Homo sapiens: one gene and its partner. The gene in region 2 interacts genetically with the main gene of each other region. Each region holds a gene or a part of one and is shown on either strand. Other genes may lie near its edges.

Region 1 (3,049 bases), on a different chromosome or scaffold from region 2:
GGGCAGTAACGTGGTTTACTCTAAAGACCCTGCACTTCACGGCCTAGTAGGATTTTTGCCTTGCATTCAACCAGGTAGTTTTTTGTTTTTTTCCTTTACCCTGTCACTTTTCCTTGCTATTTTTGTGTCTGTAATTTGCTGTGGACTAATAAACCAAATAACCAAATGTACAGGAATGGTATCTAAAGCAATGGTTCTGAAACTTTAGTATCCACAACTCACCTGGTGAGCTAGTTTAAATGCAGGTTCTTGGGTCACACTCCCAGGTGTTCTGATTTAGTAGCTTTGGGAGAATGAGGCCCAGGATTTGCCCTATGAGTAAAGAACACATACTTTATGACTATGAGAAAAAGGGGAGTCCATTTTCAGTAGCTTTTATATTTTCATCTACGGCCTGGTTAGTTGAGATTACTGGATGTGTGTATATATATATGTGTGTGTATATATATATATATATATATATATCTCCTGCTATTTGAGATACTAAATATATTTAGAACTAGTTTCAAAAACAACTTTATTTTTTCCCCTTACATCATAAAATTTAGATTTTATAAAATTTAGATTTGTTGAACAAAACGGCTACAGAACAGTCAGAAAGTACCAGAAAAATGGCTTATTTCCCTCTCAAACCTTGCTTTAGTCTGTCAAACTTTCTTAAAGAGCAGCATGTATTTAGTCTTTGGAAATATGGGTTTGAGTTCTGGCATTCCGCTAGTTCTATGATTTGACAAATTGCCTAACCAGTCTCAGCTGCAGATTTTTGCTCGTCTTTAAGATGGGAGATAATAGTGCCTACTTCTCAGGGATAGTGGGAGCTTAAGAGAGAATGAACAGAAAGTATCGAGGGTAAGCACTTAATATGTGGTCAAAATTTCAAAATGAATTTGTTATTTATAAGGCTTCTAGTTGTAATTATCACAAAAGTTTTGTGGATTCTTTGAGGGAACCAGATTTCATATTTATACACCCCAATGCAATCTACAGAGATGAGCACAGTGGAGTGTCCTCCTTCATAGTCTAGGAGAGAAATAAAATTTGCAGTTGCAGCACATTATCCTTACTTTCGCGGTATAAAACAGGCTTGAAGTATTGATTTCTATGTCACACAGCAGGATGCAAAGAAACCAAGATTTTGCTTATTTAAATATTATAGACAAATCCTAAATACTTATAATGAAGGATTATTACTTCAGTGGAAGAAACAGGCATACTAACATGAAAAAACACATTTTATTGCACTTAAGTTATAAGAAAATAAAATTTCTAAGTGAATCAAACCATAGACACAATCCCTTTAAAGGTTGTTTTCCTCCATCATGTCAGGTTGTTACATAACTAAAATTAACCAACTTGAATCTGATTGTTTTAAATCAGACTATAAATAAAACAAACAAAAAAATAAACAGAAGGAGGAAAAAAGATCGCCTAGGATACAGTGTTAAACCACTTTCACAGTTCAGCTTGAGTTGTGGCTCTTGGAGAATGAGGCAAACCATTTGACTGTTTCATTCATTTTGTTTGTTTGCATGTGACGCCTTTACTACAAAAACTGAATAGTTTCTGCTTTGTCAGTTACTCAGAGCAATAAAACTGTAACAGTTGTTTTCCCAAATACTGTAAAACACTAAGACTGACCAGCAACTTTATTTTAATTTTGTGTTTTATATATTTTTAAAATATTTTGTCAGTTTTACGATGTACGTTCATCCATTCACCACAGCCCTCAAAAAGAAAAGTTTCTCCACAGAACAGGCAAGTAATAGCTCTGTTCCAAGGAATGTGTTTTAATTTTTGCCCAGATAAAAGAAAATAAGCTTTGCACACACTCTCAATTCTTTACTTGCAGGCAAACTTCACTCTTTATTATCTGAAACTCTTCCATTCTCAGCCTCTTAGAGGCACAGATGGCTCAAGTTTCAGTGGCAAAAAGTCTTTTTTCCATAACCAAACTAGAGCAAATTTGGAATTCAGTCTGGGACTAAAACGTCACAGCAGAAAAAAAATAAAAAAAAATAATTTGCTTTTTTCTTTCTTTCATTTAGCAGCATAAATAAGTTTGGCCACTGGGAGTACAGTACAGGGTTGGGACAACAATCCCATATTTGAAGACCTACTTCTAGCACCAGCATCAAGAATTAAATCCATCTCAGGACTCACAGAACCCAGGACAACTTGCCACCTTTGAGCAACATATGCATTGAAGAATGTATATGGAAGCAACAGTAAATAGATTAACAGAGGCTAATACTGTGATTGATTGACATTGGCAATGGTTGGCAAAAAAAAAAAAAAAAAAGCTTTTCATGATAACTGTACAAAAACAATTCACAGTAATTTTTTTAAGCTTTTCCACTCCAGAAAAATGACTTTTTGTTGCAGATGCTCTCTAATTAGAAAGTCAACCAGTACTTGTTTTGATATTATTGCAGTTCCTTTCTAGGTGTCTAGCTGTCAGTGGTAAAAGAACAGGCTAGCAGAATCTGTAATGATGTTTCAGCATTAACACTGCCCAATGACCACTGGAGAAGAAAATAAAGAAATAATTGCACCTGGTTTGATTTAGAAAGTCTCATTTTGCAAAGCTGCCCTCAGTCAAAAGTGAAGCCTTTTATGTGATGAGACAGCAGACGCCTCTCTTGTCAGTTATGGTTTGTCATCTCTTCTTCTTTTCCTTCTTAGTCTGTAGGTCTTTTCAATCTGTTGCCCCAAGCCAACATCCTGCACCACTGAGAACAAGGGATTTTTTTCTTTTTCTTTTCTTTTTTTCTTTTTGCAGGGGGAAGGGCAGGGAGTATATCGTCTACACAATTGGACAAATTCATCTTTTCTGCTCTTCACTTCATGTCCACATCAAAGTCCAGCACCAGCAGCTTGGTTTCTTCAGTCCCATTCCGACTCCCAACTGCACACACCAGCTTTGTGTTTGAGGCTCTGATCCGCCACACAACTCCCCCACTCCCCCCACTCTCCAATGTGACTAGGTTTCGAATAAATTCACCCGTTTTCAAGTCCCATAGTTTTACAGTTCCATCATCTGAGCTGGTAA
Region 2 (5,167 bases):
AATAGGAGAGCTGTGCCTACACCGGATTTTGCAGCTCCAGGGCCCCATGCATCTCTCTGGGCCCCAACTACAACATAGTGATCTTTAAAAAAGAAAAAAGAGGAAGAAAGAACTTATATAATCAGCTTCTAAACTTTTCTAGAATTAGCACATCAGTAGAAAGGTAAAAGCACAGTATATGTATTAAGGATAAAAGAGCCTTACTTCAAATCTGACTAAAAACTCTGGGAATTAAAAATTCACATGAGAATATTAATTTTACCTTACTAGTAGAGCTACTTTTTTCCTACACTACTAATTAAATTTACTGACTACTTAAGTCCAAGGACTTATTTCTTAGTAAGTGTTGGCTGTTTGATTGCATTTAAAGTTAACTCCAGGGACTGGCAAACTACAGCCCGCATGCCCATTCACTACGCACAGTCTGTGCCTGTTTTCTTGCTCCCACAGAGTTGAACAGCTAAAAGAGAGACTGTATAGCCTGGCAAAAGGTTTATTATCTGCCCCCTTAAGAAATTTGCTTATCACTGGTCTAGTCAATAACTTAGAATAGATTTTCTAGTCATAATGGTCAATTTTTAACAAGAATTTCCTAGGGCCTTATTACCTCCCAATAAAACTGACACATAGGCTGGGCGCGGTGGCTCATGCCTGTAATCCCAGCACTTTGGGAGGCTGAGGGAGGCAGATCACCTGAGGTCAGGAGCTCTGACCTCATGGAGCCTGACCAACATGGAGAAACCCTGTCTCTACTAAAAATACAAAATTAGCCAGGCGTGGTGGCGCATGCCTGTAATCCCAGCTACTGGGGAGGCTGAGGCAGGAGAATGGCTTGAACCTGGGAGGCGGAAATTGCAGTGAGCCGAGATCACACCACTGCACTCCAGCCTGGGCAACAAGAGTGAAACTCTTTCTCAAAAAAAAAAAAAAGAAACTAACACATAAACAATTAACTTTAGGACAGACAAGATTGAGCACTTCATAAAACCAAGCCAAGCCAGCATTCCTACACTCGCTCCTTCTCTAGCCACATCCTTAGGAACAGAAAAGAAAACAAAAAAAAAGCGGGGCGGGGGGGGGGGGGGGCGGTCTTTACCTGGTTCTACAAAGCCTTTAATAACTCCAAAGATGTTAAGAATTTTTATCTCTTTCAGCACATTGCTCACAGTGAGCTTCACATTCTTGCTTTCTGAGGTTACCATCCTACATGTAGAGTCTGTTTTCCAGTCAGAGGGACAGTCTCCTTCCATATTCCTAGAATCAGAAAGCAGGCGTAAGTTCTGAGTTATTGTTCCTTGCCCAGGGTTTACTCCTGTCCAGTGAAGTTACAGATTAAGAGGACATATAAACAAAACTTACTCTCAGCCCGGCGAAGTGGCTCACCCCTGTAATCCCAGCACTTTGGGAGGCTGAGGCAGGTGGATCACAAGGTCAGGAGTTCAAGACCAGCCTGACCGACATGGTGAAACCCCGACTCTACTAAAAATACAAAAATTAACTGGGCATGGTGGCATGCGCCTGTAATCCCAGCTACTAAGGAGGATGAGGAGGAGAATCGCTTGAACCTGGGAGGCGGAGGCTGCAGTGAGCCGAGATCACGCCACTGCACTCCAGCCTGGGCAACAGAGCACAAGTCCTGTCTCAAAAAAAAACAAAACAAAACAAAACAAAATAAAAACAAAAAAAAACTTACTCTCTAGTGGTGAACCATTTGCGTCTTACTTTGATCTGCAGGCAGCCAATTGGAAACCATTAATTAAGCAATATTTTAAAACACTTCTCTAACTATGCGCCTTTCTGCCAGACATACTTACGTAGTTTATATTTGGAATACATACCAAGATGGACTCAAAATGAAGTTCTTCTAATATATAAAAGAATATTAATACACTTTTATGTTTCCCAACTGTCACCACTAACAAGGATAGTACACATTCTTAGCTCAGTTATAAAAAATATTCCTCAGCTGGGTGCGGTGGCTCACGCCTGTAATCCCAGCACTTTGGAAGGCCGAGGCAGAATTCCTTGAACCCAGGAGGTGGAGGTTGCAGTGAGCCAGGATCATGCCACTGCACTCCTGCCTGGGCAACAGAGTGAGACTGTCAAAATAAAAAAAAAATCTTGTGCTTCCCCTATCTAATTCCTCTGTGTTACCCAAATAATAGCTGCTCCTAAGGGGGCTTACTTACATAAATATAGGTTGAAACATTATTACTCCCCTACTACATAAGGATAAGATGGGACGCTGGCTTCACAGGTTGGTTACGATTTGTAGGTGGTAGGTAGAATGAGTCAAAAAAATCACCTATGCTAAATGCCTCTTAGCGTTATCAATAGTCATGGTATGTTACACACTCCCCTATGCTAAAGGCCTCTCAGCATGATCAACAGTCATGGTATTTCATATACTCCTTATATACAGATGTTCTTCATTTGAGACTATCAAGTAGAATATATTTTCACTATCCAATTATGTTAAAGAAACAGGATCAGAGAACCTATGTCATACAGGAGATAAATGCTTTCATAAAGGCCTGAAACTAGATCTCCATCCTGTAATAACAGGAAATGATAAATATGTCCACATCCAAATCAAAATTAATGCTACGTACTCTAATGGAACTGGGCTCTGTTTTTAAAGAGAGACACTAACGTTACAGGGAGGATATCCAGAGGAGCGAGCCACAACCATAAATGGTTTCTCTGGAAACCATCATAAGAAGCAAGGCTTCTCAATCTATAGACAAGGTAACTGGAATCATACCGTATTGCTTAGAAGAAAAATCCAGACAAATGGATGTTTCGGGGAATAGGATTTTATCCCAATATGAATTCTAACAGATTCTCTCTACTAACTGAATGGGCTGCTATAGGCATCGTGCTTCAGCACAGAAGTACTTGAGCAGAAGCTATGCCAGGAATCTTGCACAAGGAATTCACTGGGTTTATAAGTCTCCTTATTCTCCTGTGTTTATAAGTCCAAAGTCCATTATTAAGATCTCTTTATAGAGAAAAATTCATTTATATCTGTACCAAGGTAACAGCTAACCATCCTCCAAATTCCCAAATGTGGAAAATTATCATCATGTTTAACATTTTAATCAACATATTACCGTTCTTCCCTAATCATAAAACCTCACTATGCAAGACCGCTTTCAAATAAAAACTTACCCAAACAGCTTTTCTGCAGCAGCTCTGGAGATTGTCTGGACAGGTATATTAGGCAATCCTGATGACCGAGATGGTGGAAACTGAGTGTGATTGAAGGAAGGGAATCCAGGTGTGTAAGGGTCACCTGTCCCCAGATGAGCCTAGGAAAACAAAAGAGCAATTCACTCCATCACATACTTCCTCAAAACTTCTCTGTAAGATTCAGGTTTGGTATAAGGCTGCAGCCCAACCTTAGTTTACCAACTTGAAGCCTCAAAAATCTGAGTGGCTCTACAATGTGACTCCTGTTTTCATGGCATATGGAAATTCTCAAATTCAAGGCACTATTGACAAAGTACTTTTAGCAACAAATAATAAAGCCTCAAAGTCAATGTAATCTATCTTCTTGCTTACTGCTAACGCCCTCCCAGAAAAAAGAGCAGTTAAGGAAGACACAGTGCTATTTCTGCTAATACAGGAATCCAAGAACAACTCAAGGAACTCAAAACGGTGATTTACTCAAGAAATAACTCACATGTCCAAAGAATGAAAGTTCTGCGTTAACAATGGGAAATTTAGTCTGGTCCATGTATATCAACACACCAATTGCATTTAAGCTTTCAGCATTTGCAACCTAAAAGAAAACATATAAAGCTCAGAAAATGAAGATCTGATCATACGAAATGAGAATACATCCTGGACATTATGCTAAAGGCCAAATGGTTACAGAGGACTAAACTTATAATACTTCCAAATATTTCAAATTGTTTATCTGGTAATTTATTAATTGCTTCCTGAAAAATTAACTCACTTGTTTGCAAAATAAGAGTAACGGGCCAGGAGTGGTGGCTCACGCCTGTAATCCCAACACCTTGCAAGGCTGAGGCAGGGGGATCACAAGCTCAGGAGTTCGAGACCAGCCTGGCCAACATGGTGAAACCCTGTCTCTACTAAAAATACAAAAATTAACTGGGCGCAGTGGCTGGCGCCTGTATTCCCAGCTATTTGGGAAGCTGAGGCAGGAGAATCGCTTGAAACCATAAGGCAGAGGTTGCAGTGAGCCAAAATTGCGCCACTGCACTCCAGCCTGGACAAAAGAGCAAAACTCCCTCTCAAAAAAAAAAAAAAAAAAAAAAAAAGAATAACAAAGGCCAGGAGTGGTGGCTCACACCTGTAATCCCAGCAATCTGGGAGGCCAAGGCAGGTGGATCACCTGACGTCAGGAGTTCAAGACCAGCCAGGCCAACGTCGTGAAACCCTGTCTCTACTAAAAATGCAAAAATTAGCCAGGCATGGTGGTGGTGGGCACCTGTAATCCCAGCTACTCAGAAGGCTGAGGCAGGAGCATCACTTGAACCTGGGAGGCGGAGGTTGCAGTGAGCTGAGATCACGCCACTGCACTCCAGCCAGGGTGACAAGAGACTCCGTCTCAAAAAAAAAAAAAAAAAAGAAAAGAAAAATAACAAAAACCCATCTAAGACAACCACTTTTTTGAGTCTCACTGTCACTCAGGCTGGAGTGGCACGAGTCACATCTCACAACCTCCAGGGCTCAAGCAGTCCTCCCACCTCAGCCTCCTAAAGTGTTGGGATTACAGGTGTGAGCCCTGCCACTTTTTTTAAAAATGCAGAAATCACCACTGTCTTTTGATATGTTCCACTCTAGTTCCTTGTGTATGTTTGGCTATTAATTTTCCTTTTTATAAAACATGCTTTTAGCTGAATTCTGTATATGCGTAAAACTGAGTTATACAGAGAAATAGCTTTCACTTAAGCACTTCTGATTAGGTAAGTGGAACTTACTTCATTTGTTGAGCATTTTAATAAATTATATTATCTGGTATGAGAGTTTAAGATTGCTGATTTTCAGAATGTAAGAATATTAACAAGAAATATCACTTACCTGAAGAGTAAGATACCAAAAGTACTGTATTTAATATTATAATAACTCATACTCACCTTTTCTGCAAAGGTGATTTTCCCTGCTCTGACAATCACTATAGATCCATTCACAGGAG

Evidence for each region.
Region 1: changes in TFRC (region 2) and FBXW7 together harm fitness more than expected from each alone (negative genetic interaction), as found in Homo sapiens cells (one large-scale study listed by BioGRID).

Annotation. Positions count from the first base shown.
Region 1 is NC_000004.12:152,320,044-152,323,092, forward strand, and holds the end of FBXW7 (F-box/WD repeat-containing protein 7), read right to left. Parts: coding exon 2,838-3,049; 3' UTR 501-2,837; downstream 1-500. UniProt on the Homo sapiens protein: Substrate recognition component of a SCF (SKP1-CUL1-F-box protein) E3 ubiquitin-protein ligase complex which mediates the ubiquitination and subsequent proteasomal degradation of target proteins.
Region 2 is NC_000003.12:196,064,347-196,069,513, forward strand, and holds part of TFRC (transferrin receptor protein 1), read right to left. Parts: coding exon 5,109-5,167; intron 3,785-5,108; coding exon 3,686-3,784; intron 3,312-3,685; coding exon 3,172-3,311; intron 1,255-3,171; coding exon 1,097-1,254; intron 83-1,096; coding exon 1-82. UniProt on the Homo sapiens protein: Cellular uptake of iron occurs via receptor-mediated endocytosis of ligand-occupied transferrin receptor into specialized endosomes. Endosomal acidification leads to iron release.